Linked DNA regions of Homo sapiens: regions 1 and 2 are each linked to region 3. Evidence: fine-mapped expression QTL. A gene starts in region 3. Each other region holds a variant in brackets. All regions are shown on one strand. Distances are between the middles of the regions.

Region 1 (11,304 bases), 740 kb before region 3:
TGTTCATAACAGTTTTATTCCTATTAGCCTCCAACGAGAAAGAATCCAAGTATCTTTCAACAGTTCGATTTATCCTTCACTGAATAAATTGCAGTGTATTCATAAAATGGAATACTATTAAGCAATAAAAAGAATGAACTGACAAATGACACAACATGAGTGAATCTCAGAAATATGCTAAGAGAAAGAAACTAGACACAAAAGTTATCATACTGTATGATTCAATTTACATGAAATTCTGGAAAAGGCCAAACCATATTAACAGAAAACAGATTACTGTTTTTCTGGGACCAAGACTGAGTAGAACTGACCACAAGTGGGGAGGGGGAGAGTTCTGGCATTGTAGGAATGCTCTGTAATTTGATTGGAGTGTTTCTGGGACCAAATCTGGGTAGAATTGACCACAGGGCTGGAGGGGGAGATTTCTGGCATTGTAGAAATTCTTTGTAATTTGATTGGGGTGTTGTTGCTTAGTATTGCTTAAATGTACCAAACTGTACATTTAAGTTGGGAACATTTTATATGATGTAAGTTAATCCTCTATAAGGTTAATTGTTAGTATTAAAAGTTTTCTAATAAAAATAAAAGACAAGGTGGAACACTTTTAATTCAAAGGTCAAACACAATTATTGAACCAAGTAGTCTCTCAAATCTATAAAGAAAAAATGTAATAGGAAAATAAATAGATAATTTTCAAAAGTTGGATAACAGTGTCTGATAATTTTTTTTAAAGTGCTTACCTCTACTATTAATCAAAGAAATGTAAATGGGAGCACGGTATGATTTTTATATTTCATCTTGGCTAGAATTTAAAAGATTAAAAGTAACATCATATACATTATGGAGAAATTGGCATCTTCACATATTGTTAATGAAAGTATAAGTTTTATAACCTTTGTGGAGATTATATGCCAACACAATGCATATTAAAATTTGAAATAAGAATAGATTTTCAATCAGCAATTTCATTTTGTGGGTAATGCACAATTTTTCAAAAAACTATTTCATTTATCCAAACTCTGAGAAATTTATAAAAATTAATAAAATGGCATTTATAAAGTTATTCCAACTATGGACAAGAAAAATCACAACTCTAGCATCTATTGCAAAGATTGAGGTAGGTTTACATATTGTTACTTTTTGAGAGTCTATGAATTTAAAATAATAGGTTTGATAGAGAAAATAGAGGCTTATGTATGTATTGGAAGATTAGGAGAATAAATGTCAGGAAAGCTGCTCTTGATTTTCCGAATTGCAAGGATCACAGGAAGCCCTCACAGATGATCTTGGCTGCTTCAGTACTGATGGATGATTCTCAGAAAATCTGAACGTGAAGGGCTAAAGTCCACATCTATCATCTGATAAGTGCTGGCATATCACCCTGCCCCAAACAACTGGCTTCCCCCTTCTGCATCCACATATTTCATGAATGCTCCTTTTTTGTAAAACCCTTTTGGCAAGGTGATATGGAAAACAGACATCAGGATTTCCAGAATTTTTATTCCTACATTGTGGTACAGAGAACTTAGAAGTGTAAGTATGATACTAAATATCAGTAAAATATAGTCAGCACAGGTTTCCCTTTTAGATATTCACCATCCATACACATCCTTCTGTTGATGTTTAAATTTCCAAACAGTAATAACGAATATAACGAAAATACATCTCACATAAAGAGGTACCCACATTTATCTCTAAAAATGAAACAATAAATTATTTGATAGCCTTTTCTTTGTAGATGGAATTATAATGTTTTGTAACATCAACACACCTTATATATACTGGTAGGTTAAGACAAGATGGGAAAATGATCAACATACACATATATACATAATAAAGCAAGCAGTAAAATAAAACAGCTACTGCAATCCTTGTTTCTGTAAGTAAACATGACTATCACTGATGCTTATGACTTTTTAAAATGTCACCTGTTTATATTCTTTTGAACTCACCTAATACCCCAACATTTCTGAAGGGCTTGAACTATTAGTGACTGCCTAAATTAGGTTGTTTTAGTCTTCTATTAAATTTTGCCTTTATATATGAAGTAATAAAAAATGCCCTAGAACATCTAGATTCTAGACATACTATTTTCTGCCTTGGTAGTGTAGCGGCAACACCCTATTTTTCGTTAAAAAACAGGATTCATTTCTGTCTGTAGATTACTGGTACAGAAGGACAAAGTAGACTGAAGTGGCCAAGGGGCCATCTCAATCACCATTTTTGTGTTTTCTGGTGGAAGTAACACTCCTTTGTGAAATAACACTTCTAATCCACAAAGCTCAAACTTATGCATATAAGTCATTAGGAGTAATAACAGAAGGATTCATTTCATCTCCCCTTAAACGTCGGTTCTCAGACTTATACATTCTTGTTAGTAGAGAATGAACACAATCCTTTGGCTGCTGGTTCAGAGTATATTCTGCTTTGGGCAGACACATGGGGCTGTACTAGGTATTGGCACAGAGCCAGTGCAGTAACTGAGCCTCAAGTAAACCGTTTCATATTCCACCAGGTCACCTCCTTCTGAGCGGTGGAATACACAGAGGCTTCCCAGTATTATTTAGTACATAATTATAATTCTCTCACTGACTTGTGAGGTCACTTCTGCCAAAGACCAAGTTCTCAAATACACATACATTAATTTCTGAGCTCTCCTTTCTGTCTCTATACTACTTATTTCTTCTTGCACCAATAGCATGCTCTTTTTTATTACTAAAGCATAGTTTTTTTTTACTAGGAAGAGTGAGGGCCTATATTACTTGCCCTTTACAAAATTGTTTTATAATTTCATGAAAATTTTGGAAATCTGATTGTCAGGGTGACTTCAAAATTTATGCATGGATTTGGGTTGGAATTATATTGGCTTTATAGATTAGCTTGAACAAAATTCACAACTCTATATTATTTTGTCATTCTGGTAAAATGCATTAATAAGATAACACACTGTTTGATGACAGAGCTCAACTAGATTTAGTATACTTACTAAAATTTTAGGTTTTTGCAAAACATCTCAATGTTCTTAATTAGAGTTTCTAGGGGCAGCGCCCTGGAAAACATCATTCAACCCTCTTTTGATTCTTAGAAACACTGAAGTTGAGTGTCATTGGACAAATACATCAGTCTTCTGATTAAAATTCAGTAAAAATTTTCCACTTGGTCTGTTGCATTACAGTCTTAATTGTGGTGGGCTCTCCTTCAGAATCCATCACAACTTTCAAATGGACTCAACTTTCAAAGCATACATGGGCTAATTATGCTCATGACTTCAACTCCCCAGGCTCCTCAACTGAGGCCACCTTTGAGAAACTGGTGACATTATTTTTTCCAAAATGAACTTGACTCCTAATTAACCCCAAGACAACAGCTCCAGTGCAGTAGATCTAACCTCAGGAGTCCAGTGTTTACAGTACATGCTTCTAATAACCACATCCCACGTTGGTCATCAGAACTTCTGAAGATGGTGACTTATCTGGAGAAGCTGGGAGTCCTGATAGATGGAGGAGGCTAGCTCTGTTGATTCAGATGAGAGTTTCTATCTCAAGGCAGCTTCCCTCTCATTTGCTGTTATTTCCTCAGGCTCTGATTTGTGGCAGTGGTGCTACTTGTCAGGAGACTGCCAAATACTGAATAGCTGCTTCTCTCTAAATTAGAAGGGAGAGAGCAATGTAAGTACTTACCGAGCAGTGGGAACATTGACCTAGCTTGGGGATTTGTGGGGACTGGACTTGAATGATGGGTAGTGTTTGAGAAAGCCTCTTTCTGTGCCTCCCATGGAGATCAGTGATGGCATTTCTGGTAAGTAGCAGAGTTAAAAAGGAGAATCAGAGGCTACCTTTCACTGAACTTACTAAGAGTGACTGGGAATGGCCTTTATAATTCTCAGAATTTGGCTGGGTGTAGTGGCTCACCCCTGCAATCCCAACACTTTGAGAGGACAAGATGGGTGAATCACCTGAGGTCAGGAGTTTGAGACCAACCTGGCCAACATGATGAAACCCCGTCTCTACTAAAAATAAAAAAATTAGCCAGGCATGGTTGCGTGCACCTGTAATCCCAGCTACCTGGGAGGCTGAGGCAGGAGAATTTCTTGAACCTGGGAGGCAGAAGTTGCAGTGAGCCGAGACCGTGCCATTGCATTCCAGCCTGGGAAACAGAGTGAGACTCCTTCTGAAAAAAAAAAAAAAATTATCTGAATTGTTCTTGAAGATCATATTGGGTCATTCTTACTCATAGCTAGATTTTATTTTCTTTTTTCTTTTCCTTCCTTCCTTCCTTTCTTCCTTACTTCCTTCCTCCCTTCCTTCTTTCCTTCCTTCCTTCCTCCTCTACTTCTCTTTTTTGTTCATTGGTGGATTCATGGATTAAATGAAACAGATACTCCACTTGTCTCTCATCTCTCACTCTTCTACTTCTGTTTCTGCTGTGTACTCCTGGATGTATAATTTTAGGTATAATTGAAATCTAGTACTTAAACTCCATTTTAATATGGCAATCTGGAGAAATTAAAGATTTTTATTTGTATCTAAGAAGTTAAAATTTCACTCCTTTATTATCTGAAGCTGCTTACATAATTTCTCTCAGCTAACTGATTGATGTTTTCCTTAAAATAAATATTTATATTTCTTAAAAGTTTTACACGTGAAAACTCTGTAGATTGCCTTCTTTTGGGGGAACCCAGCACCCTCAAGTACTTTGTTTCTATTTAAATCCAGATTACATAAAATCCCAGTGGAGCATCTGAGGAATTAGAAAAATAAAACACTGAAGTAGCATCTCCAAGGATCATAGCCTGAATTCTATTCATACGTTCTAAAATATCACAATTAAGGGGATTTTGAGATCATCTAACTAGAGAGTCTTTGATTCTCTGAGCAAGAAAGGCTCCTAGGGGTCATAGTACTCCGATACTATCTTAGTCAAAATTCCTCTGTAAAATGTTCAGG[G/C]ATCCTCTGCTTCAGTGCCTTCCACATATCCCAACAGTTTATTCCATTACTGTTTATGCTATCCCTTTAATTAAAAAAAAAACTAAATATTGAAGGTATATACTTCATCTAAAGTCACAGAAGACTAGACCTGAAACCTAAATCTTTTCACATCACCCTAAAGATCTTTCATCTTCATTTTACAGCTTGAACGTATTTTGTAGGATGAGAATTTTTATTTTCCTGGTCTTAAGTCTTTCTATCAGTACAGATGACAACACACTATGGTGGTCCCTAATGGCATCTTGAGCAGATGGGGGCTGCCTTCTCAGATGCACCATGGAGCTGAATCCATAGATCATAAAAAGGCAATTATATCGATCACATGATTCATTTAGGCTATGGATTTATATTAATACTATGTAAAAATCCACTGGACTAGAATCAGCTGTCCTCATGTGCCTGAGCAAAAAATAATCCAAACAATTCTCTTTGGTATCAGTTAGATACAGGTACTCCTTCAGAATCAGAGAATTCCAGCTTCCATGGTTTACATTATTCATCATATTCAGTCAAGTGAGGGCCTAGTGGCGGTTAAAGGTTGATTAGTTGAAAGAAGATTCAAATGAAAGTCTTTTGGGAAAGCAATGAGGCAAGGCTAAGCAATGACCATAAGTTTAGATTTCCTCATTGTTTTGAATAGACAGGAAATCATTTGTCCAGAAGGAGGTATTATGTAGGGAAACTTTTACCTTTCTGTATATAAAAACATATAACTAATACACACACACTCATACACAAATATCAATGGAGGTATACATTGTGTTTACTTTTTCTATGTTTATGTACAATAGTAATATCTTTATAGTTATACTAACGTTATTAAAATAAGTAATTATATTAACTAAGTTTAGGACCAGTTTCTAGTAAGTAAGAAAGAAAAAAAATCATCTCCAAATTCTATGAATAGATATAATGAATTTCAAGAATGCCTGATGAATTAACTTAGGATTCAGGAAACAAAAAAAGTTGCTATTGAATAGAAAAATGGAAAAGTAACAGCAACAAAATTCTGGTAGCAGATGCCAATAATTTCCCAAGACAAAATGATGTAGTAACTTCAGAAGTATATAAATGAAGACTGGATACCAGCAAGACATACTGGATGATTTTGTATCCAGATAGTGCTTTTTTTACTTATTAGGTTGGGTTATTGAAAAATGTTCCAGTGAAAAAAATTAGGCCTAAGATGATTTTAGAAATAATTTGTAATGGCAGTTTGCAAAATATTTTTAGTGGCAGAATGTTCAAAAGAAATCTTATTAACATAACAACATACAAAAGATACAAAGCCTATGGTTTACAGCAGGAGAGGGGAAACTGGCAAAATTCCCAAGTGTGCCATTCTCTCTCACACTCTGTAGCAAGCTCTGTCATTTCTACAAAACTCTTATTTCTCTGAGTTTCTCCAAGTTAGCTCAGCATGGAAAAGTGAAGTGTGTTACAAAATGCCACAAAGTCAGTCATCTCTCTTTACCACCCTGGTGACTATTCTCTTCCTGAAAGAAGAATTTTTTTCTTTATACTAATGCACTAATGTTATTTATTTTTATTTTATTTTATTTATTTATTTTTGAGACAGATTCTCACTGTGTCACCCAGTCTGGAGTGCAGAGGCACAATCTTGGCTCACTGCAACCTCCGCCTCCCGGGCTCAAGTGAATCTCATGCCTCAGCCTCCCGAGTAGCTGGGATTACAGGTGTGTGCTGCCATACCTGGCTAATTTTTGTACTTTTAGTAAAGACCAGGTTTTGCCATGTTGCCGAGGCTGGTCTTGAACCCCTGGCCTCAAGCAATCCACCCACCTTGGCTTCTCAAAGTGCTGGGATTACAGGTGTGAGCCACCACATCTGGCTAATGTTATTTTTTGTTTCACTGTTGACTCAATGTTTCAACTTGTGGAACTTCCAATAGTATTTCTTATTGTTCCCTTGGAGATATAAAAAGTTCCCAGTAAATAGATGTGTGCTCACATCTTTACTTAGAGACCATGGAATACTTTATCTCCTTTCTCATTTCATGGTTGGATAAACTGAAGTCCACATGATTATGTCTGAATATTATTCATTCTTTCGTTCTATATTCTGATCAGCTTCAGGTAGCTGAAGTTAACGTTTTCCACTTTGGAGAGTGAGTTGCCTTGGGTTTATAGTAAGTGACAAAAACAACAATCTCTCTGTTACATAAGAAGGAAAACTATTAGCAAATTTCCTAATCCTTGGTCAGAGAGATAACCTGTTCTTCACATTAGAGAAGGCCTCCAAACTGGCTATCAGTTATTCTTTTGCATATTTTGCCTAATTCTTCTTTTAGCAGGCATTTTAATGGGGGAATGAAGAATTCCATCAAATATCTGGAAATGCCTGCCACCTGCAAACTTTGTGTGAAATTTCCCGTACATTTCCACTCTCCTTTCTGGATCCTGGTTTCTACCTCTGTCCCTGACTCTCCTTTATAGAAGTGCTCTCCATGGAGCAAGTCAATAAGACTGTGGTGAGAGAGTTCGTCGTCCTCGGCTTCTCATCCCTGGCCAGGCTGCAGCAGCTGCTCTTTGTTATCTTCCTGCTCCTCTACCTGTTCACTCTGGGCACCAATGCAATCATCATTTCCACCATTGTGCTGGACAGAGCCCTTCATACTCCCATGTACTTCTTCCTTGCCATCCTTTCTTGCTCTGAGATTTGCTATACCTTTGTCATTGTACCCAAGATGCTGGTTGACCTGCTGTCCCAGAAGAAGACCATTTCTTTCCTGGGCTGTGCCATCCAAATGTTTTCCTTCCTCTTCTTTGGCTCCTCTCACTCCTTCCTGCTGGCAGCCATGGGCTATGATCGCTATATGGCCATCTGTAACCCACTGCGCTACTCAGTGCTCATGGGACATGGGGTGTGTATGGGACTAATGGCTGCTGCCTGTGCCTGTGGCTTCACTGTCTCCCTGGTCACCACCTCCCTAGTATTTCATCTGCCCTTCCACTCCTCCAACCAGCTCCATCACTTCTTCTGTGACATCTCCCCTGTCCTTAAACTGGCATCTCAGCACTCCGGCTTCAGTCAGCTGGTCATATTCATGCTTGGTGTATTTGCCTTGGTCATTCCTCTGCTACTTATCCTAGTCTCCTACATCCGCATCATCTCTGCCATTCTAAAAATCCCTTCCTCCGTTGGAAGATACAAGACCTTCTCCACCTGTGCCTCCCATCTCATTGTGGTAACTGTTCACTACAGTTGTGCCTCTTTCATCTACTTAAGGCCCAAGACTAATTACACTTCAAGCCAAGACACCCTAATATCTGTGTCATACACCATCCTTACCCCATTGTTCAATCCAATGATTTATAGTCTGAGAAATAAGGAATTCAAATCAGCCCTACGAAGAACAATCGGCCAAACTTTCTATCCTCTTAGTTAAAGAGCTATTTTTTAAACTACTAATGCCTAGTACATGCCAGGCAGAACGTGTGTTTTATACATTTTTTTTCATTTAATTGTCCAGCTCCACTGTAACATAAGAACATTTTACATATGAGAAGAATGAGGCTCACAGAAGTTAAGACAGTCTGGCTTTCTACTCTCCATGATACTTTAACAAGACTAATCAGATATGGGAACAGAGCACACAGTTCCATAACAAATTTAATTATATTTTACTGCTTTAAATATTGCTAATTTAAAAACTAATATGAGAGCAAAGATGCATCTAAACTGATGAGAGCTGTGTCTTGAAGTAGAGAGCTTGGATACATCAGGAAAGAAAAGATGTATCCAAAAAAAAAAAAAGAAAGAAAAAAGAAAAAAAAAAGGAAAACAGCAGGAAATCCATCTATCCGTACTTTTCTTTTCCTAAAGACAACAGAAAACTTTGGTCCCACACATTCTGCTACAAATCTTGGTGGTCCTTTTTGTCCCCAATTCATTTCCTTAACCTACATATTGAAATATCTTGGCCTTTACTTGGGGTTGTTTTGTTCTTCCTTTGTTTGAGGTGGAACCACTTTATGGTTCTCTTCCTGATGCACATGTATGTCCTTCACATACTAGTGTGTCTTAGCCCCCACATTTGTTCCTGAGACACCATACTAATTTGCTCTCTTCAAGGAAGCTACTAGCATTGCCTACTTGCTGAAATATCTCAAGTAATTCCAAGCAAAGGGCTTGAGTTAATATTAATAGAAGGCTAGATTCCTAGAATGACCAGAAAACTCATGGAAAACCCTCCAGTGACTCCCTTTGCCCTACAAGATAATGCCAAGGGTCCTTCATTGTCATGAATCTATCATCTAGTTTCCACCTACCTCTTCAGTATTATCATTTCTAATTTTGTTATTCTCCATTTTCTATATGCCTTTTGTACACTCTGAAGCTAACCAACTATTTGCTTGTTTTAAAACAAATAAATGTGATGAACAAAATAAATGTGGTCTCTGCCCTCATAGGCCTTATTGCCTGGTTCAAGATAGTCCCAGTAAACAGAAAAATGAGGGAAAATACCTTACCAGTTTAAGTTGATTCTCTGAAGAAAAAGTGCATGCAGGCGATAGAGGAGAGAATACTAAGATAAACCTAATTTAGATCGAATGGCATAGGGTTGGTTTCCCAGAGAAACTGAGAGTTAACCTGCATGTAACCTGAAGGGTAATTAAAAGTCTTCAGGTAAAGGGGATATCCTTTAGGACAGAAGAAACAATGTGTACAAAACCCCTGAAGCAAGAACTGGATGAGTTGGAGACAAGCAAAGAAGGCCTGTATAAATGCTGTTTTAAAAATGCTTTTCAATTGACAAAATTATATATATTTATGGTGTAAAACATGATATTTTCTCCCATCCTGTAGGTTGCCTGTTCACTCTGATGGTATTTTCTTTTGCTGTGCAGAAGCTCTTTAGTTTAATTAGATCCCATTTGTCAATTTTGGCTTTTGTTGCCATTGCCTTTGGTGTTTAGACATGAAGGCCTTGCCCATGCCTATGCCCTGAATGGTACTGCCTAGGTTTTCTTCTAGGGTTTTTATGGTTTTAGGTCTAACATGTAAGTCTTTTATCCATCTGGAATAAATTTTTGTATAAGGTGTAAGGAAGGGATCCAGTTTCAGCTTTCTACATATGGCTAGCCAGTTTTCCCAGCACCATTTATTAAATAGGGAATCCTTTCCCCATTTCTTGTTTTTGTCAGACAAAGGGCTAATATCCAGAATCTACAATGAACTCAAACAAATTTACAAGAAAAAAACAAACAACCCCATCAAAAAGTGGGCAAAGGATATGAACAGACACTTCTCAAAAGAAGACATTTATGCAGCCAGAAAACACATGAAAAAATGCTCATCACTGGCCATCAGAGAAATGCAAATCAAAACCACAATGAGATACCATCTCACACCAGTTAGAATGGCGATCATTAAAAAGTCAGGAAACAACAGGTGCGGGAGAAGATGTGGAGAAATAGGAACACTTTTACACTGTTGGTGGGACTGTAAACTAGTTCAACCATTGTGGAAGTCAGTGTGGCGATTCCTCAGGGATCTATAACTGGAAATACCATTTGACCTAGCCATCCCATTACTGGGTATATACCCAGAGGATTATAAATCATGCTGCTATAAAGACACATGCCCACGTATGTTTATAGCAGCACTATTCACAATAGCAAAGACTTGGAACCAACCTAAATGTCCAACAACGATAGACTAGATTAAGAAAATGTGGCACATATACACCATGGAATACTATGCAGCCATAAAAATAATGAGTTCATGTCCTTTGTAGGGACATGGATGAAACTGGAAACCATCATTCTCAGCAAACTATCGCAAGGACAAAAAACCAAACACCGCATGTTCTCACTCATAGGTGGGAATTGAACAATGAGAACACATGGACACAGAAAGGGGAACATCATACACTGGGGACTGTTGTGGGGTGGGGGGAGGGGGAGGGATAGCATTAGGAGATATACCTAATGCTAAATGACGAGTTAATGGGTGCAGCACACCAACATGGCACATGTATACATATGTAACAAACCTGCACGTTGTGCACATGTACCCTAAAACTTAAAGTATAATAATAATAAAATAAAAAAATTAAAAAAATACAAAAAAAACATGATATTTTGATACACATATGTATTGTAGAATGGCTAAAGTTAATTAACATATACCTTTAGCTCATGTACTTATTTGTTTGTGGTGAGAACACTTACAATCTACTGTTAGCAATTTTCAAGTATATAATACATTATTATTAACTATAGTCACCAAGATATGCAGTAGAGCTTTTAAAATTATTTCTCCTATCTAACTGAAATTTTGTACCCTTTGA
Region 2 (11,304 bases), 1.0 Mb after region 3:
CAATAGCGAAGAGGAGATTGTCAACTTCGTGGAGGAGCACAGGAGGTGGGGACCAAGGGCAACCCTCTCAGCGGGGTCGGCTCCTCCTTGGGCTAGAACACACTGTGTGAGATGGGCTGGGGAAAGCTTAGCCAACCGGGAAGCCAATCTTGCCTGGAGATGAATACACTTTGGGCACCAGTGCTCTCTGATACACTGACAATTTTGCACAATATTTTATACCCCACTACTTAGCCCTGAGCCCTACACCGAGAGGGTCCTTCATAAGTGTGTATAATTCAGTGTGAGGTTGATTGAGACTTAAATAATCTCTGTCAACAAATGAGTGTTGACTGCCTGTGGTGGGGCAGGAACTGCAAGGTACTTTCCATCTCTATGATTATATTAAGTCCTTTTAACCTCAGTGAAAGTTTCTACAGGTAATAAGTGTCAGAGCTTTTAACCCTGATTTTAACCCTGATGTGTCCCATGTTTGTTCTTTTTTTCTTCTTCTTCTTTTTTTTTTTTTCTTCCGAGACCGAGTCTTACTCTATCCCCTAGGCTGGAGCACAGTGGCGCCATCTTGGCTCACTGCAGCCTCCGCCTCCCAGGTTCAAGCGATTCTCCTTCCTCAGCCTCCCAGGTAGCTGGAATTACAGGCACGCCACCACACCTGGCTAATTTTTGTATTTTTAGTAGAGATGGGGTTTCACCACGTTGGCCTGGCTGGTCTCAAACTCCTGACCTCAAGTGATGCGCCTGCCTCGGTCTCCCAAAGTGCTGGGATTACAGGCATGAGCCACTGCGCCTGGCCCCATGTTCTTTCTAATACAATATCGTACACCAATGGTTCTCTACAAGGTGGGAAGGCGTGGCGAGGTGGGCATAGGTTTTTGCCCTCCAAAGGATGTTTGGCAATGTCTAGACACATTTTTGGTTGTGCAGAGTGCTACTAGTATTTAGTGGCTAGAGCCCAGGGATACTGCTAAACATTCTACAGTGCGCAGGACAGCCCCCTACTACAAAGAATTATCTGGCTCCAAATGGCAATAGTGCTGAGGTTGAATAATCCTGCCGGGCACTCACACATAATTCCCTTCCTTCATAGTAGTCCACAGCTGGAAATATCCAATCACTCTGTCCCCCAGGCTAGCGTGCAGTGGTGGATCACTGCAAGCTCCCTTGCAGTATATACAGTACTTACTCTCCCATACTACTGGCTCCCTTCATCAAGGCAGGAACATGCTTGCCTGGTTCAACTGTATGTACCCAGCACCTAGCATAGTGCTTAGAACATATCGGGCACTCAATCATAGTGAGTGAGTGAATGAATGAATAAATTAATGAATATCCTGATGTCCAGTTCTTGCCTTTCTCCCCCAGTCTCTCTTCCAGTCCCTTTGCCCACCCTCCCCTCTCCCACCGCTTTAACCATGCAATGAGCCGGGCCTGGTGCCCAGAGTTGAGGCCTTGCCAGATGGCTTTGTTGTAGGCTACAAGCTGTCTGTGCCCTGGGCCTGACCTAGAGGCAGCCTTTGCTACAGGACCCTCTGGAGGGGGCATCCTTCTAACCCACTGAGTAATGACACTCTGTCTGTCTCTTCTAGATCAACCCTGAGGAAACTGAAGCCGGAGAGTATGTATGAGACCTGGGTGAGTGCCCCTGGCCAGGGTCAAGCCCTCAGGGAAGCATGGGTGCCAGAAGACTCAAGTCCTAGAAAAACCCCACCCTACTGCTCCTCAGGCCCATTTTTAGAAAAAACAGTGCACTGACCAGCTGGGTGTGGTGGCTCATGCCTGTAATCCCAGCACTTTGGGAGGCCAAGGTGGGTGGATCACGAGGTCAGGAGATCGAGACCATCCTGGCTAACACAGTGAAACCCCATCTCTACTGAAAATACAAAAAAAATAGCAGGGTGTGGTGGCGGGCGCCTGTAGTCCCAGCTACTTGGGAGGCTGAGGCAGGAGAATGGCTTGAACCCAGGAGGCGGAGCTTGCAGTGATCCGCCACTGCACACCAGCCTGGGGGACAGAGTGAGACTCCGTCTCAAAAAAAAAGAAAAAAGAAAAAACAGTGCACTAGCAGCAACTGAAAGATTTCTACACTGAAGAATGTGTGAGGAAATGGGAGACAGACATAATTGAAGATGACAAGGGAAGAGCCTCAAGCCTGGGGATAAAGGGATTATCAGAGGAAGTGTGGGGCCTTGGAGCTGAAAGGAGTGTCACTTGGAAAAAGGTCACCATCACAAGAATATATATGGCCAGGCGCAGTGGCTCACGCCTGTAATCCCAGCACTTTGGGAGGCTGAGGCAGGCAGATCATCTGAGGTCAGGAGTTTGAGACCAGCCCGATCAACAAGGTGAAACAATGTTGTACTAAAAATACAAAATTAGCCAGGTGTGGTGGCGCATGGCTGTAATCCCAGCTACTCAGGAGGCTGAGGCAGGAGAATCGCTTGAACCCGGGAGGCGGAGGTTGCAGTGAGCCGAGATCGCGCCATTGCACTCTACCCTGGGGGACAGAGTGAAACTCTGTCTCAAAAACAAAAAAAAACAAACCCCAAAAAACGAAAGAATATATCTGGTCCTGAAGCTGGATTTCCACAAAATTGAGGTTCAATGAACATCTAGGATCTGTTCTGGGCTCCTCAACTTCAGGGAGTATAGTAAGGTCTTCTCCAAAACCCTGTTCTCCTTCTTACCCCCTGACAGGAGGATGATATGGATGGAATCCACATTGTGGCCTTCGCAGAGGAAGCTGATCCTGGTGAGGGAGGAATACCGGGTTGGACTGGAGGGAAGGCAGGGGGAGGTGGGTGTGTTTATTGGAGCATGGGCCTCACTAGGAGGCTTTCCTGGGAGTTTGCAAACAGCCTAGGGCTAGACATGTGAAGCTTGGGGAGCAGGGAGGTAGCTCTGCACTCCTGTTTCACCTGGGTCCCTTTCCTCTCTACACACCTCATACCTTGTACTTGTGTTCCCTCCAAGATGGTTTCGAGTTCTTAGAGACTCTCAAGGCTGTGGCCCAAGATAACACTGAAAACCCAGATCTTAGCATCATCTGGATTGACCCTGATGACTTCCCCCTGGTAAGAGGCACAGCTCAGGCACTGCTATCTTAAGGTGGGGCCTTGGACTGTGACATCTTCTTAGTGAGGGCTTTGTTTCAGAGGTCCCATCCCCACCTCCTAGCTGGGGGGCCCTGGGAGGGTATGCGTGTTGCATGCTTAAGGGCACTGTTGGCATGGAGGGCATCCTGAGCAAGGGGAAACAGGACGGACATCACACACATTCCCAGAGCAGAGGCTGGATGGGTAGCTCAGGTGCTAGGGCTGACTCCTAAAGAAAACCAATGTTGTGAGGCACAATAGTCCTGCACATGGGTATACACACTCAATCATAGAATCATAGCACAGAGATTCCCTGTTTCAGGAGATGATTTTGTTCTCAGCTACATTCCCAACACCTAGCACTCGCTGTTGAATGAGTAACTGAAAGAACAAAGAGAAACGTGAGAAACATTGGCACTTACCAGGTATACTTGCCTTATTTTAGAAATGTAAGATCTGAGGGCCAGAGAGAAGTGACTTGACCTTGAACACAAGGATCTGATCCAGGATCAGAACAGGGTTTCCTATCCAGTTTTCCTCAGAAAAGAGGGGCCAGTGCACCCAGCTGACCCTCCCGATTCTCTCCCTTTAGGATTTCTCCTCTTTTGTTGTTTAGTTCTACCCTTGCCTTGATGCCCTCACAGGTGGACCTGTCCCCATCCACTGCCAGTTCGCACTGTCCCCTCTCCATCCCTGGGCTGACCCTCACACTCATCCTCCTGGATTCATGTGCTCCCTAGTATCTATTAAGTTGCTGTATTTTGATCTCTCTACAGCTGGTCCCATACTGGGAGAAGACGTTTGACATCGACTTGTCAGCCCCACAAATAGGAGTCGTCAATGTTACTGATGTGAGTTTCCTGTCCTCATCCCGGGTTGACCCCCGACTCTACTTCCTAGCATAGCTAGCTCTCCTCCTCTCTGCTAACTAGGAGTTGGGCCCTTCTCACAGGACGCAGACATGCCCAGTCTAGTGGCTGGATGGAGGGGGAGACTTAGGATCTGAATGTGGCCCTGTCCCACATGTTGGAATCAGTGGCTCATCCTTCAAGGCCCAGTTCAAATTCTTTCTCCTCTGTGAAGTCTTTCCAGATCTCCCATTTAAAATCATTCCCTCCCTGGCACTCCCAGGGCTCAATAGCCATTGAGAACATGACATTTAAATGGCTATTTATGTATTATGTGTGTCTCTTCCAGTAGATTTTTGAGCTTGTTCAGGGCAGAAGTCTTCTTATGCACACACAGTAGGTGCTTCAAAACTGCTAAGTTGAACTGAATGAGCCACAGTCTCTGCTTTCATAGAATTCTCAGACTAATTAGAGAGGCAAGTGTTCCATTAACTACAAGGCCAGATCTGATAAACTTTATAATAACGATACAAATAAGACACAGGATCACATTGATTTCTGCTTGACAGAATCAGAGAAAAGTTTAAGAAAAAGTGATATTCAAAATGGAGATTCTACAATGTATACGATTTCAACAAGTGATGATTCAGGGAAGTCATTTCCAAACTGAGGAAAAAGCAAGATCAAAAGTTAAAAACAGGAAAATGAATATCAGGTTCCCGGAAAAGGCAGGTGGATTTTTATGGTTGAGAGTCTAGAGATCACTGAGAATGGTACTAGAAAAGCAGGTTATGAAAAGCCCTGGGGCCAGGGTAGTGGCTCAGGCCTGTAATCCCAGCATTTTGGGAGGCCAAGGTGGGAGAATCACTTGAGGCCAGGTGTTCAAGGCTGCAGTGAGCCATGACTGCCCCTCTGCGCTTCAGCCCGGGCAATAGAGTGAGACCATGTCTCTTTTAGAAAAGAAAGAAAGAAAGAAATGTCCTGAATGCCGAAGAGTTGCTAACTTTATTCTTATAAGCCATGAAGAGCTACCAGTGGTTTTGCACCAAAGGCATAATAGGGAAGTTCAGTGTGGCAAGAGCACGG[G/A]AGACAGATTGAAGGGAGAAGGTCTATTTGCCAATCCAACTTTTCTTCCCACTCTCACCTGTCACTATTCTAACCCATAACCCATACCTTCACCTGGACAGTTTCCCTGGCCTTTGGCAGATGAAAGGAAGGGACTGAGAATGTAGGGAAGGATGTACAGAGTCCAGTGAGTGGGAAGACAGATCCTAAGACCCGGGTTGGACTTAGCTTCCGTCCCTGCCTGTGCCATCTCCTAGGCGGATAGCGTATGGATGGAAATGGACGATGAGGAGGACCTGCCTTCTGCTGAGGAGCTGGAGGACTGGCTGGAGGATGTCCTGGAGGGCGAGATCAACACAGAGGACGATGACGATGATGATGATGACTAGTTGCTATGGCAACCATCTTTCAGCCCCACTGGTCTTTTCATGCTCTCTCCTGCCTTCCCTTGTCCTTCCCTGAGTTCCTCCAGGGAGACTAGGTTATTCTCTGCCATAGAGCTAACTGGGGTCTATATGCTGGGTGCTGAGACACTGATCCCCCTCATTTGATGAGCAAATGAGCTACTTTTCCCTAGACACCAGGCCAGCTCTCTCTTATCTGACTTCTGTTTCTTATCCCATAACTTACTTGTATCTATTATGTGTCTCTTCCATCACTCTCCATACTCTTTCTTGTGATTCTCCTCTAGCCATATATATGGGCCCCATCTCTGTTCTGTTCCCTCCATCTATGCACAGCTTTCCCCCACTCTCTCTAATCCTGTATCTTTCTGACTGTCCTGTCCTTGGCCAGAAGGAAGGGAGAATACTGTGTTTGGGACTGTATCTCAGCAATCACTTGTTAATGTATTTGGGTCAAATGAGAGGCCTCAATAAAGACATCTGGGGCAGCATGAACAAGTGTATTTTGGTGAAGTCTCACCCCTATGGCAGGAGGAGGTGGCCACTGATGGGGAATTCAGATGTGGGTGCCTTGCTAGGGATGAGCTGGGGGACTCTTATAGTGGGGACTGGGGTTCCTCCAGGCAGCTTTCCCAGAGAAGCCTGGATTGTTAATCTGCTTCAAGTCAACAAGCCTTTTCTGAACACATGGTGTTTGTCCAGGGCCACTGTTAGGCTCTGGGAGAACAGAGAGTGCTAGGCCTGTCCCTGATCTTGAGCTGATTAGCCTCACGGAGAAGTCAAGACAAGCATACTAAACAATCGAAGAAGAATACAAAGCAATATGTAATTAAGTGATTATGTGCTGCTCGATAGCACCCTCTCTGCAGCTCTTATTTGAACATCAAGACAGAGCTCCAATTATACTTCCTTGGTGAAGCCTTCCCAGAGGTGGCCCCTCCAGTGATGACCTCTTCTGAGTTCCTGCTGCACTTCCATTCCAGTACTCAGCACAGTCTGTTATTGTTCTTCATTTACGTGTCTGTCTTCCCCACTCAACTGTGAGCCCCTTGAAGGCAGGAACCCAAGCTTTTTCTTTGTGTCCACAGGGTCTGACACTCAAAAGTTGTCCCTAGTAAATGTTTCCTAAAGGAAGAACAAAGGAAAGAACAGAATGAACTCAGAAGAGAGATCAGAGTGGGCTTGATGACTTCACAAAGGAAGTAAGCCTTTACTAGGCCTTAAATTGAAGAATGGGATTTGGTTGGAGACAAAGGAGCTGAGGAGGAGACATTTCAGTCAGTGGAAAACATCAAGTACTGGCAGGATATGTTTGTCATATTGGGGGCACAGAGACCAGAGAGACAAGAAGAAAAATCAAGTTGTGGCCATGAAGTTGGGTAAGCATAATGGGGCTGGGTTGTAGAGCTGTTTGAATTGAATCCTGCCAGCCGAGGAGGCAGGGCAAAATTTAATCTGGTAGCGATAAGCAGGATGGGGAGGGGAGATGATGGAGATGCCAGAGGTAAGGGGCCCAACCCATAATCAGTGACTGTTATAATAATTGGAGTGATGTTGGGAGAACATGGACCCAAGTGGTGGCCATGGGAATGGAGAGGAGATATTGTATACAATGGGGATCTCCCAGACCTGGGCCTGCTGGAGGTCTTGGCAAGAAGGACCCACAGTCTTTCCAGAATAGGCCCAGGCTGGGGTAAGCAAAAAGGAGTTTAGGGAGTTGGGGATGGGAGGGCCAAATAGCTAAATAAGCCCATAAATAATAAACATATACATATATAGTTTTGAGATGATGCCCATGAACAATAAACATTTTATATATATAATATATACAAATAGCTAAACAAGCCCATAAATAATAAACATTATATATATATTTTTGAGATGATGCCCATAAATAATAAACATTATATATATATACATATACATATATATGTGTGTGTATATATATATATTTTTTTCTTTTTTTTTTTTTTTTTTGAGATGGAGTCTCACTCTGTTGCCAGGTTGGAGTGCAGTGGTGAGATCTCGGTTCACTGCAACCTCCGACTCCCGGGTTCAAGAGATTCTCCTATCTCAGCCTCCCAGGTAACTGGGACTACAGGTGCCCACCACCACACTCAGCTAACTTTTTTGTAGTTTTAGTAGAGATGGGGTTTCACCATGTTGGTCAGGCTAGTCTTGAACTCCTGACCTCAGGTGATCCACCTGCCTCAGCCTCCCAAAGTGCTGGGATTACAGGCGTGAGCCACCACGCCAAGCCAACATTATATTTTTCATGGATCAGGTGTAAAGTTGTTGCTGAGAGACTTAGAGGATTTCTAAGTACGGAAAGATGAGACCTGAGATTAGATATATTTTCACTCTCCACAGACAAGTCCAGGAAGTGTTCCTAGAGAATGTGGCAGGGGTGTAGAAAGCAGAAACTATGTATTCATTCCAACTTGTAGCTATTTAATAAATGTTTAATAAGTAGTATGGGCACTAAGCTAGTCTTACAATAATATTGTGGAGCTTACTGTCTAGCATAGGTCAGTGGAAGGCCCCGGTCTAAATAATAGCTCCTATTTTTTAAGCACCCATCTGTGCCAGTCCCTAGAGACTTACTATTTCTGAATCTCAGAAGAACCCTCAGAAATAGACATTGGCACCCTGATCTGACCGGTGAGGACACTAAGGCTTTCAGGCATAACTTGCCCAAGGAATGGGTGGAACTAGCACGCAGCCCAAGGCCCCTGTGTCTTGTTGCCTCCAGACCTGAGCCTTTCACTTAGAAACTACATGAGTCTCAAAGATGGGTCAACGAAATAGTTTTTGTCCCTACAACACAGAGCAAACATGATATATACAAAGGCAAATGATTAGTGTGTGACAGGGAATGCTGGGGAGAGGAAACAGCAGAGAAATGCTATGAAACCCAGAGCAGCAGGAACTTGGGCCTCTTCTAGGAATGGTGTAGACCCAAGAAAGGAGGGGCTCGTTTGAGGTTTCTGGAGGAGTCTCTGCCAGGTAGGAACTGAGATGAGATGGGTGATCCTGGAAGTGGCACAAACACTGAGGGGAATCCCCCAACCTGGGCCTGCTGGAGTTCCTGGCAGGAAGGACCTACCCAGGGTCAGACTTCTTTCCAGGGCCAAACCCTGCCCAGAGCTGAGGCAAGACCCCTTAGGCTATAGAGATGGGGGTGAAAACAGATGCTTCTCCAATTCTTCCTTTCCTCTTTTCAGTCTGGCTGAGAATCTGGGGGAGGAAAGTCCCTGGGGTAGAGGGGAAGTGAGAGCTGCCACATTGGGCCTGGGCAGAGGGGCAGAGCTAGGAGATGGAGCTAAGTGTGGCTTTGCAAGTTGTCTATATTTGCATGCTGAGCTCACTGCTGCTCTTTTTCTCCCCAGAAAATAAAATTACATCATGGTAGGGGGAAGGCAGGAGTGGGGCATGTTTGGGAAAGGTGAGAGGCACGCAAGAGGGCCTGAAGGCATCATCCTGGAAAGAGAAGATCCAGGGCTCCTCAAGTCCCCATGTGGCCCCAACCCCTCACTCCCAATGTGGATAAGTCTGATCAGTCATTTTCCACTGCGCCCCTGACCCTTAAGGCAAGGCAAGAAGTTTTTACAAATATTAAAGCCAGCAGCTAAGAGAATCCAGCCCCCAAAGGCTTTCCAACCCCCTAAACCAAACCTACTCTGTGCCTCCCAGGGGTCCTAGGCACCGTGGTCATCCAAAGGTCAAAAGGGGAGGAGGGTGCCCTACTGGGTAAGAATTAAATATGAGAATTGTTTCGCAGTTCAGGGGGAAGAGACCGTCTCCGCTCCAGCCCTCCGCCCAATTCTGTCCCCCATCCTAGGAGTCTTCCAGAACCCCAGCCCCTCGGTCCCCCGCCCCCTCCTGCCTCTCCATCCCTCCCCCTCCTCCCGCCATTCCCCGCCCCCCGCCCCTCCCCGGCTCTGACATCACCGGCCAGCCGGGTGGAGTGAGCGGCGCTGGGCTCGGGCTCCGGCTCCGCGGGCGGAAGAGGCGGCGGCGGCGGCAGAAGCGGCGGCGGCGGCGGCGGGAGCCGAGGAGGAGGTTCCGGACGCTGCTTAGGAACCGGGGACTCAGGAGTGCCCGCGCCCTGAGCGCTCAGCTCCAGAGGCGGTGAGAGGGGCGGAGAGGAGACATGTCGCGGGGAAGGGGCAGATTTCGGGGTCTAGGCTTGGAGGGGCAACGATCTGGGACACCGGGGGCCAGACGGGGAGTGTGGGGACCCCGGACGAGTCCACTTTGTGTCAGGCCTCACGGGGTCCGTCCCTCGGTCGGTGCGTCCCGAGCGCCGAGCGTGTGCTGGAGGCGGCGTGGCTCCGGCCAGCCCGTTCCACGCTGAACGGCAGTTTGGGAGTCGGACCGGGGCCTGTGGATTAGGATGCAGCCTGCTTCCCGCCCAGCCGGCTCGGCCAGGCCAGCGCCCGCCCCTCCCTCCCCGCTCAGGCTTCGGACTCGCCTCCGCTGGCGGTCTCCCGGCCCAGCCCTGTCTCGGTTCCGCGGGCGGCTGGTACCATGTGCCCTCACCCCCAGCTCACTGCACCTGGGGAAGAGGTGGGCTTGGCGGAAAGCTTGTCCAGAGGGAAGGAGGAGCTGGGGGTGTAGAGAAGTGATGTATATCTAACGTAAAAACCCTTATTAATTTCATATAATCCGTGTCAAAACTGACAGGGAAACACGCACACCTATAAGGCACGCCAGCACACACAGTGACACACACCCATGTGACTTATACACATAGTCTAGCACACTCCAAATCACAAACGTCCCTGGACTACGCATCCGGCCGCCCACCACACCCCCACTCTGTGGGGTGGGGCATCCCATGAGGAGTCTTCTGAACTGCGGGCTCCAAGTCATCAGTCCGACAGGACAGCTGAGTGGACAGAAAGGGCCACTGTCCCCAAATCCATCCTGATTTTCTGGCAGCTTTTCCCAGCCCCATGGTTTCAGATTGTTCCTCTTTAAAACTGTGGGGAAAGATGGGAGAAAATCTTGGTCTCATTCCTCTAACACAAGGAGACAGGATTTTGCGGACTAATGAGGGTAGGGGCTTCTGGTGGCTTCTCTTCCTGGGTCCAGTTAGGGCTTAGCGTGCTGGGAGTGGCTAGTTTCTGGGTAAGAGTGGCCAAGGGATGGAGGAGGAGGGGGTGGAAGAAACGGAGAGGAAAAAGAATGGGTATGAGTCAGCCAAGAATGGAACCCAAGTCAGAGAGAGAATGAGAGGAATGTGTGTGAGAAGCAGACAGACATCTCCAGAGAGGTCTAGAGATAGTCAGGGAACCAGGGAGAGGGAGGAAGTGAGAGAAAGAGATGGTCAGAGAAGTGCAAACAGTGTTTGAGAGTGCACTAAACAAATTAGGGAGGATGAAGGTTGGGGGAGACCACTGGGAGTTAGGGAAAGTGGTACGTGTGTCTGGGCCCCAGGCTGTCAGAGCGATTAGCTTTAATTGCTCTTCCCTTTGTGGTTAAATACTCCATTGGGGAAATTGCCAGTGATGCCCTAGGCTGCAGGCTTCCCTGGTTGCCTACTTCCTCAATTCCGTGCCCATCATGTGTGGATGTATTATCATGCATGAAGAGGGTCACAGAATCACAGAGCGCCTCACTCTCTCACACAGATCCTCACGCACAATGTCATGATGGATATCTTCACCAGCTGGTAGGCAGCCAACCACTGAATCTCCAAGCCACTCCGACCAAACTTACTCTGTCTTTTGTAGCAGGGATGCTCACCCCTTCCTAATTGCAGCTCCGAATATTCAGATGGGGACAGTGAAGCACAGATCTCAGGAGTCCTAAGTATTCATGGCTACCACTAAGTTGGATAGGTGAGTAGGAAATGCTAGAAGGGGTGAAAGCCTATAGAAAGGAGGAAAA
Region 3 (8,008 bases):
AACAAACAAAAAACAAAACCCTGGAGTGTTAGGAGGAGAGTGAAGGTAGAGGGGTGAGGAAGGGTAAGGGGCAGGGCTGGTTTCAGCTGGGGGCTCTCACCAGCCCTCCTTTCAGCCTCTACAACAGAGCAGCTTCCCAGACTTCTCCAGGAACCCAGAAACGGGATGGTTGTCGGCAAAGGTTGGGAGTGGCTTTTCCTCTGGTAGCCACACACCTGAGCACTACGGACAGGGAGGCAGGTGCCACCTTGACACCTCTCTTCCATAGCAATGGGAAAGTGATGAGTGCGGGAGTCCTGAGGAGATGTGGCCTGCAGACAACATGCAGCCATGCAGGGACCCAGGACTGTAACCTGGGGAGGACGCGGGTCCCTGCAAGGAAGAGTAGATTTGGAGAGGAAGGATGGAGGTGGACTCTCACCCCATTCCCCCCGGAAATGAACAAAGCCGGGCCCTTTCCATAGGAACTGCCCTTGGAGATAGCAGAGTGTGGCTGCCCCTCCTTGCTCCAGCAGCAGTGGGAGAGGCACTGCTCTGGGGCCTGAACTGCCTCTGCTTCCCCCCCTGAGGGGCCCCTCACTCTTACCCAAGACTCTGGATTGTTGCACGGCAACCACTCCTCCCATGGCATTGCTCAGCAACTACTTCTCCCTTCCCGGCCACCCTGTGCCCCCTTCCTGGTCCCAACGCCAGCCCTTCATCCTTCCTCCCTCAGCAGCCAGGCAGACATAACAACAAAACTACTAAAAGGAGCTTCACTGCAGTGAGCTGTTTCCTGCCCAAACTAAGGGAATAATGTGAACTGTGTGCATGTGTGTGGTGTGTATGCATGTGTGCATGTGTGTGTGTGTGTGTGCATGTGTGTGAGTGAGTGAGAGGCAGAGCGAGGAACTGAGGAGGAGGGCTAAGAGCCAGGGGTCCTGGGCAAGTGGACAGGGCTGTGGGACATGTTGGGGAGGCTTTGGGAATGGGGTATTCCTAGTCAGGGTTCACACCTCACCTGGGATGTTGTTCCATGCTGGTATTTCCTCTGCCACCCCCAATGCCCATCGGTCTTGGAGAAAGGAGTCCCCGGGTGTGTGTTTGCCCAGCTGTCCATTCTATCTCTCCCTTAAACACAGAGCATTCAGCCCTTCCCTGGATTTCCCTCCTCTGAGCCATGGAGTCAGTGCCACAGCCTTTGCTATGCACCTCTCAGGCCTCTCCTTGGCGTTGACCCTGGAAAGACCTACCACCACCTATTTTTTCCCATAGTCTGTACCCAGTGAGTTGAAGGCTGGGTCCCCACCCTTCCTTTTGATTTCCTGTCTTCCTTCTCGTGGCCCCAGCTGGTTGCTGTGGAGATGAGGTTCCTGGTCCTCCCTGTCCTGGCTGGACTGCCCCGCCTCAGATCCAGGATGCCCTTGGCATCGCTCCCACCCTCCCCCAGCTTTTCCTCCCTGGTCTGACAATGGGCATGCAAAAAGGGGCAGCTGCAATCTAGCAGGCCTGCCCACCCCCTTCAGTTCAGGTAATACAGTTGTGAATCTTCCAGCCGCTGGTTAGGGCCTTGGGCACCACAGGCAGCCCCTCACCTAAGCCGGGGCCTACTCCTCTTACAACAGCAAGAGAGCCCTGGGGCCCCAGGCCTGTTGAGCTTCTTGTCTCCCAGCACCCGCTTTTGGGAAAATGACTTTTCCTCTTCAAGCTGAACCACTCTGTCCATATTACACAGAAGCCATATTTGTACGGGGGGGTGGGAGGGAGAGGGGCTGTTGTGCTGTGTGTGTCTGTCCAGGGGTGGGGGGGTGGGGGAAGGGAGCAGGGAGGGGACCGTGTATCTTTATAATCTTTCTAACTCTCCTGTGCTAATCTCAGAGGGGTCACCCTCAATATATCTGGATTATCCGTGTCATTCAGCTGCCTCCTTTCTGGTCCTCTTGCTGCTGCTGGGATGTGTGTATGTGAGGGTCTTCTTCCCATACCCCTTGCACCTGGTGCCTGGTGCCTCAAAAGGTGGTGTGTCCCTTGCCAGGCCACTCTCAAGAATATCTATGTACAGCAACAATATAACTCTACAAGGGAGAGAAGTGTGTTCACTTCCTTTTGCTAAGCCCTTCCTTTCCAGAGAGTGTCTTGGGGGGCATCTGACTGCTTCCCCCCACCCTCTGCCAGGCATTGCTGGAGAATGTTAAGACGGCGATGGAGATGCCATCAACCCCACCCTGCAGAGCATCACCAGACACCACCAGACCAAATTCACTTTCCAGCCCCTTCATGTTGAACCTGAAACTTGAGCTAGTGTCTTGGGAGAAAAGGGGGAAATCTCTACGAGGTACCCATCCTTCTGCACCTTAGGTCTGAGGTGCTTGGCCCCCTAGGAAGCCCTACATGAATGGGACAGAAGGTCCTTAACAACACTGGAGATGAAGCAGCCGATGCTGTTTTGGACAAATGAAACAGCGTCCCCTAACCAGCCCTTTCTATCTCATTGTTCTGACTTGGACACGCCATGGCTCACCGCTCCCAAAGTCCCCACTATGTCTCCCTAGCTGAGGAAATAAAAGCAGAGAGGGGTGATGAAACAGTGACGATCCTGGGGAAACAGCTGAGGAGGGGAGGGAGGGGGAAGAAGCCACTAAAAAAGTGAAATGTGCTTGGGAGAATCGGCCTGCCTGCAGGGTAGATGCCCTTTCTCTCTGCTGGCCAGCTCTGCCCCTCAGTGAGAAACTTTACATATTGCTAAGATGCCTGGCCAATGAAACAGTTCCAGAGACTTTATGTCCCCCAGTAGAAATATGAATAGAAATCACCCTGTGGGCAATGGTCCCATTTTAAAATATGCTGTCCCATTGTCCCCTAGAGCCTACTTTAACTTGTCAGACCATGTATTCCACTTCATATGCAAGAGGCATGCACTGAGCCCATAGGTGGCTAGGCAAACACCCAATAGCTCCCTGAAATGGCTTCATTATGCAGCCTCGACAGCCACCCCAACCCTCCCACTCTCACACTGAAACACCCAGACCTAGAGATAGCTAGACACACCCAGACACCCGCCAAGCCCCTCACATACAGATATGTGCACAATGATACACAGCAAACGTACACAGAGTTCAGTACACACAAAGAGCTCACGCCCACGTGCACACACCCCTCAGTTGGGACAGAGTTGACCACCACCACCTTTCTCCCAAACACATGGCTTTTGAACTGCCTTTCCTTGGATCCAGTTCAAGGGGATGGAGGAGCAGTGAGAGTCAGCCGCCCTTCCACTCCAATTTCCCAGCACCTCCCTTATCTCTGCCTCACAAGTCACCCAGCCCCCCTCTCTTCCTTCCTTGTGCTTGAAGAATCTCTCCTTGCTGGAAAGCCCCCTGTTTTCTCAATCTCCCTTTCCACTTCGGTAAAATCTCTACTTGCTGGAAAGCCCCCTGTTTTCTCAATCTCCCTTTCCACTTCGGTAAAATGCCCACTTTCTGGTCCCCACCTTTTTCCTGAGTGTAGTCCCAACCAGCCAAATCCAACCTCAAAACAGGAAGACCCAAGGCCAGTGACCCCCATAGGCCTGAGGCTTGTGCAGGCAGTGGGCGTGGGGTAAGGCTTCCTGATGCCCCCTGTCCCTGCCCAGAACCTGATGGCCCTCATTAGTCCTTGGCTCTTATCTTGGAAGCACAGGCGCTGACAGCCGTCCCAGCCCTTCTGTCTGCGGGCCTGAACCAAACGGTGCCATGGGGAACTGTCTGCACAGGGTGAGTATGGGGCCAGGCCCCAGAGTCCCTTATCCCTATGCCCCTCATTTCCCCTGCTGTTTGCCCCTCAGTCTTTATATCTCTTCCTTTTCCTCCTCATCTTTTCTCCCTTCCTGCTTTTTTCCTCTTCCTTCAAAGTCTTTTTCCTTCTCTCCTTCCTATGCTAGCCTCCTAGCTCCCTCTTGTGTCCCTCCCTTTGCCTTTGAGTCAGTTCCATCCTGGTCTCTTGGTGCCTTTTCCTTCTGACCTTGCACTGCTCCTCCAGCCCCAGCTGCCCTGGCTTCCCCAGGACTGTTCCTGCTCCGGCTCTTCAGGCTCCCTGCTTTGTCCTTTTCCACTGTCCGCACTGCATCTGACTCCTGCAGAGACCTTGTTCTCCCACCCGACCTTCCTCTCTGTCCTCCCCTCCCACCTGCCCCTCAATTCCCAGGAGACTCTTCCGGTGTAACTCTGATGGCCTCCTCTGGGTATGTCCTCCAGGCGGAGCTCTCCCCCTCAACTGAGAACTCAAGTCAGCTGGACTTCGAAGATGTATGGAATTCTTCCTATGGTGTGAATGATTCCTTCCCAGATGGAGACTATGGTGCCAACCTGGAAGCAGCTGCCCCCTGCCACTCCTGTAACCTGCTGGATGACTCTGCACTGCCCTTCTTCATCCTCACCAGTGTCCTGGGTATCCTAGCTAGCAGCACTGTCCTCTTCATGCTTTTCAGACCTCTCTTCCGCTGGCAGCTCTGCCCTGGCTGGCCTGTCCTGGCACAGCTGGCTGTGGGCAGTGCCCTCTTCAGCATTGTGGTGCCCGTCTTGGCCCCAGGGCTAGGTAGCACTCGCAGCTCTGCCCTGTGTAGCCTGGGCTACTGTGTCTGGTATGGCTCAGCCTTTGCCCAGGCTTTGCTGCTAGGGTGCCATGCCTCCCTGGGCCACAGACTGGGTGCAGGCCAGGTCCCAGGCCTCACCCTGGGGCTCACTGTGGGAATTTGGGGAGTGGCTGCCCTACTGACACTGCCTGTCACCCTGGCCAGTGGTGCTTCTGGTGGACTCTGCACCCTGATATACAGCACGGAGCTGAAGGCTTTGCAGGCCACACACACTGTAGCCTGTCTTGCCATCTTTGTCTTGTTGCCATTGGGTTTGTTTGGAGCCAAGGGGCTGAAGAAGGCATTGGGTATGGGGCCAGGCCCCTGGATGAATATCCTGTGGGCCTGGTTTATTTTCTGGTGGCCTCATGGGGTGGTTCTAGGACTGGATTTCCTGGTGAGGTCCAAGCTGTTGCTGTTGTCAACATGTCTGGCCCAGCAGGCTCTGGACCTGCTGCTGAACCTGGCAGAAGCCCTGGCAATTTTGCACTGTGTGGCTACGCCCCTGCTCCTCGCCCTATTCTGCCACCAGGCCACCCGCACCCTCTTGCCCTCTCTGCCCCTCCCTGAAGGATGGTCTTCTCATCTGGACACCCTTGGAAGCAAATCCTAGTTCTCTTCCCACCTGTCAACCTGAATTAAAGTCTACACTGCCTTTGTGAAGCGGGTGGTTTCTTATTTTGTCTGGGGAGAAGAAGGAGAATGGAGAGAGAGACATTTTTATGTCAGACTTTCTTGCCAGTGTCTGCTTCTATAGCTGGCTTGGGAAGAAGGTGAATGATGAATAAATACCCTCAGGGTACACAGATGTTCTCTTGAGGTGTGGGGTCACGGCCATCTCAAGGGAGAAGAGAAGAGGAACCAGAGCATGAGGGGAGTCATTAAACCAAAAAAAACAGAAGGGATGGCTTAGCTGGAAAAAAAGCTGTTCTGGGAAGCAAATGGAATAGGAACTCAAACTGAGAGATAAACAGTGAAGAGTGATGACAAAGCCCAGAGCAATACCACCTCCCCCTGTCCAACCTGCCCAGCCTCTGTCTTCTGTCTCCTCTCTGGCTTTGTTTAGTGATTAGGACAGTGGTGGGGAAGGTGAAAGAAGCATCCCAGGGGATGTTACTCAGTTCAGGGAACATATCAAGGTAATTTAAAAAGCCACTTCCTGGGAGTCATCTCTCCCAGGTTCCTCAGCATGACCTGAATGTGCGTGCGTGTGTGTGTGTGTGTGTGTGTACACATCTGTTTCTCGATCTGTTAGAATCTACCTTTATGTTAGATGTATGCATGTAAAAACATATGTCCACCCATGAGCTTGCATCTCTGTCAGCACCTGAACTGCGCACACCTGTGCGTGTGCACTGACTTTTCTCAGGACCCAAACCCCCACTCAATTCTGCACTCATCCCTGTTCACAGGATATAGAATCGGGATTTATGACTCACTCCTTACCCAAATGAGTTTTCTTTACCCTGGTTTTTAAGCCTAGTCTTTTCTGTGTAGGATGTGTGGAGGGAAGAAAAGATCAAGAAGTTGTGAAGGGTGGAGAAACTTGAAGGGGGAGGCCCTGATTTGATTCATCTTCTGCTTGGAATTCCCCGAATTTCCCTTTCAGAATCTCAGCTTTTGAAATAAACCTTTATTTCCCACATACATCTTTCCTTCCACCTTCCACACAATACCCCAATCCCCTGGGCACCTTTTTCCCAACCCCTGATTCTCTGGCTGCTTAATCATGACCTTTGAGATTTTTCTCAGTCTCTACCTACCCAAGTTTAGATGGCTGGAAGGACAGAAACCCCTCCTCATCAGGGGCACAGCTTTTACCACCAAGAGCAAATTCACCCTCTACCCAAGAGGCTACAAAACAGTTAGTTCCTACCTCTAACCCAACTAAAGGCTGGGGAAACTTGAGCAGATACGTTCTATCAGTTTGAACCCAATTACCATCTTACCATTTTCCAAAGATATGCTATACCTGGTTTCTTTACTAAAATGTTTCTGCTTGACTCTCTGGGCTTGGGAATAGTAGGCGAGTGCGGGAGAGGTGCAGAGATGAGTTAGAATAGCTTAGGCAGGAGGGTGCAAAAGGCTTAGGGAATTTTCCTGGGTGGGTGCCACGACAAGGCCTCTAAATCTCCCACCTCCTGTCTCTTAGCAACCACCAGGTTAGCTCCTGATTGGTTCGTCCTCAATTGAAAGGCGGGATTTAGGGACCGATTGAGACGCGGGAGACATTCTGAAACAGAAAGGAAGGGAGAGAAAATGAAGAGAAAGGAAATAATTTACAAACCTAAATTATGCTCTGGTTTCCAACCACAGTTCATGAATGTGTTCTAGTATTTTTTCCCCCGCTTTTTTTTTTCCAGGCTTCTCTCAATATCCCCCTCCCGTCCTTGACCACTCTTGCAATTCTACCAGATGTTGCTGTCCTCCCTTACAAGGTACTGATTTGGAAGCTGACCTAGTTGAGGGGGAGGAGAGGGCGTTTTTGACTCCCTGAATCTTCCAGTGTCAACCTGATGCAAGGGAGGCTTAATTTAAGACCAGTAGGCTTGTCTTATCTGCCCCCAACCCTGTGCCTCTGGATAGAAATCCCTGGTCAGTCAGTCCAGTTAGAGAGAACCCCAGACTCCTGGGTAATAGCTTGGCAGCTCTCATGGCTTTCACAAGGGAAAGGCAGCTGCAGAAGCCCGAAGCTGCTAAGAGGTTAGGGTGGGCTGGAGACAGTGCCCTACCCCCGCCCCCTGCTACATCCTCCTCATCCCCACCCCCACCGGGATTGCTCCAGGCCTTTTGGGCTGCCCTTTCCCTGCCATTACCTAGGCAGCACTTGGAGAGCTCCTCCTTAAGTCTAACCCGGACCTCAGTCATTTCTTTAAAGCTTTCTTGGGGACCTGCCACCCCATGCATTTAACCCACTGCATGCCATCAACCACTCTAAAATTGGTCTGAGTCTGGCATCTTTTCTGCAACCCTTCAGGAATACAAATCCTGTCTCCTTAAAGCCCTTAAGAATTTAATCTTAGGGTTGGCAGGGACTTTAGCTGTGTATGAGATATTGGGCATCCTAGCTAAAGAAAAAAATCCTCTCAGAAAGATGAGAGCCAGGGAAGCAAGCTCTTGGGAAAACACAGGACCCTGAGGAAGGTCAGTTTGCTTTGCTTTCTAAAGGAGAGAGATCTATTATTCAAGGGAAGTTTGAACATCACATTGACGCTCATAGTTCATTTATTCCAAGCTGAGGCCCCTCCCTTAGGATTTAGAAAACAAATACTTGGTCCTCACACCCTTTTTCCATTCCTATTTCCCTATCCCCCAACCCCATCACCACCTTCCTCCCTCAGAGGAATTCTGATTGAGAACTTCACTGGGATTTCAAACCCAATTCATCGCCAACTCTAATTGCCAGAGATTTGCATGAAA

The links. PIP is the estimated chance that this variant, and not a neighbour inherited with it, causes the effect.
Region 1: its variant is fine-mapped to the expression of ACKR1 in whole blood (GTEx, PIP 0.96).
Region 2: its variant is fine-mapped to the expression of ACKR1 in whole blood (GTEx, PIP above 0.99).

Annotation. Positions count from the first base shown.
Region 1 is chr1:158,458,107-158,469,410 of GRCh38, forward strand. OR10K1 (olfactory receptor family 10 subfamily K member 1) reads left to right here and starts at 3,728. Exons shown (of 2, transcript NM_001004473.2): 1 at 3,728-3,798; 2 at 7,300-9,352. The coding sequence starts at 7,456. The coding sequence ends at 8,397. LOC107985212 (a long non-coding RNA gene) reads right to left here and starts at 4,665. Exons shown (of 2, transcript XR_001738256.3): 1 at 4,065-4,665; 2 at 1,481-3,644. The variant G/C (reference allele first, on the strand shown) is at 4,947.
Region 2 is chr1:160,195,983-160,207,286 of GRCh38, forward strand. CASQ1 (calsequestrin 1) reads left to right here. Exons shown (of 11, transcript NM_001231.5): 6 at 1-45; 7 at 1,587-1,632; 8 at 2,695-2,749; 9 at 2,971-3,071; 10 at 3,869-3,943; 11 at 5,263-5,904. The coding sequence ends at 5,394. PEA15-AS1 (PEA15 antisense RNA 1) reads right to left here. Exons shown (of 5, transcript NR_123725.1): 3 at 9,356-10,394; 4 at 9,089-9,152; 5 at 6,217-6,534. It overlaps PEA15 (proliferation and apoptosis adaptor protein 15), which reads left to right and starts at 9,402. Exons shown (of 4, transcript NM_003768.5): 1 at 9,402-9,540. RefSeq lists enhancers at 8,608-8,707, 9,058-9,107 and a silencer at 9,258-9,517. The variant G/A (reference allele first, on the strand shown) is at 5,027.
Region 3 is chr1:159,201,250-159,209,257 of GRCh38, forward strand. It overlaps ACKR1 (atypical chemokine receptor 1 (Duffy blood group)), which reads left to right and starts at 3,626. Exons shown (of 2, transcript NM_002036.4): 1 at 3,626-3,731; 2 at 4,212-5,251. The coding sequence starts at 3,711. The coding sequence ends at 5,201. CADM3 (cell adhesion molecule 3) reads left to right here. Exons shown (of 9, transcript NM_001127173.3): 9 at 1-2,064. CADM3-AS1 (CADM3 antisense RNA 1) reads right to left here and starts at 1,173. Exons shown (of 4, transcript NR_037870.1): 1 at 1,001-1,173; 2 at 1-372.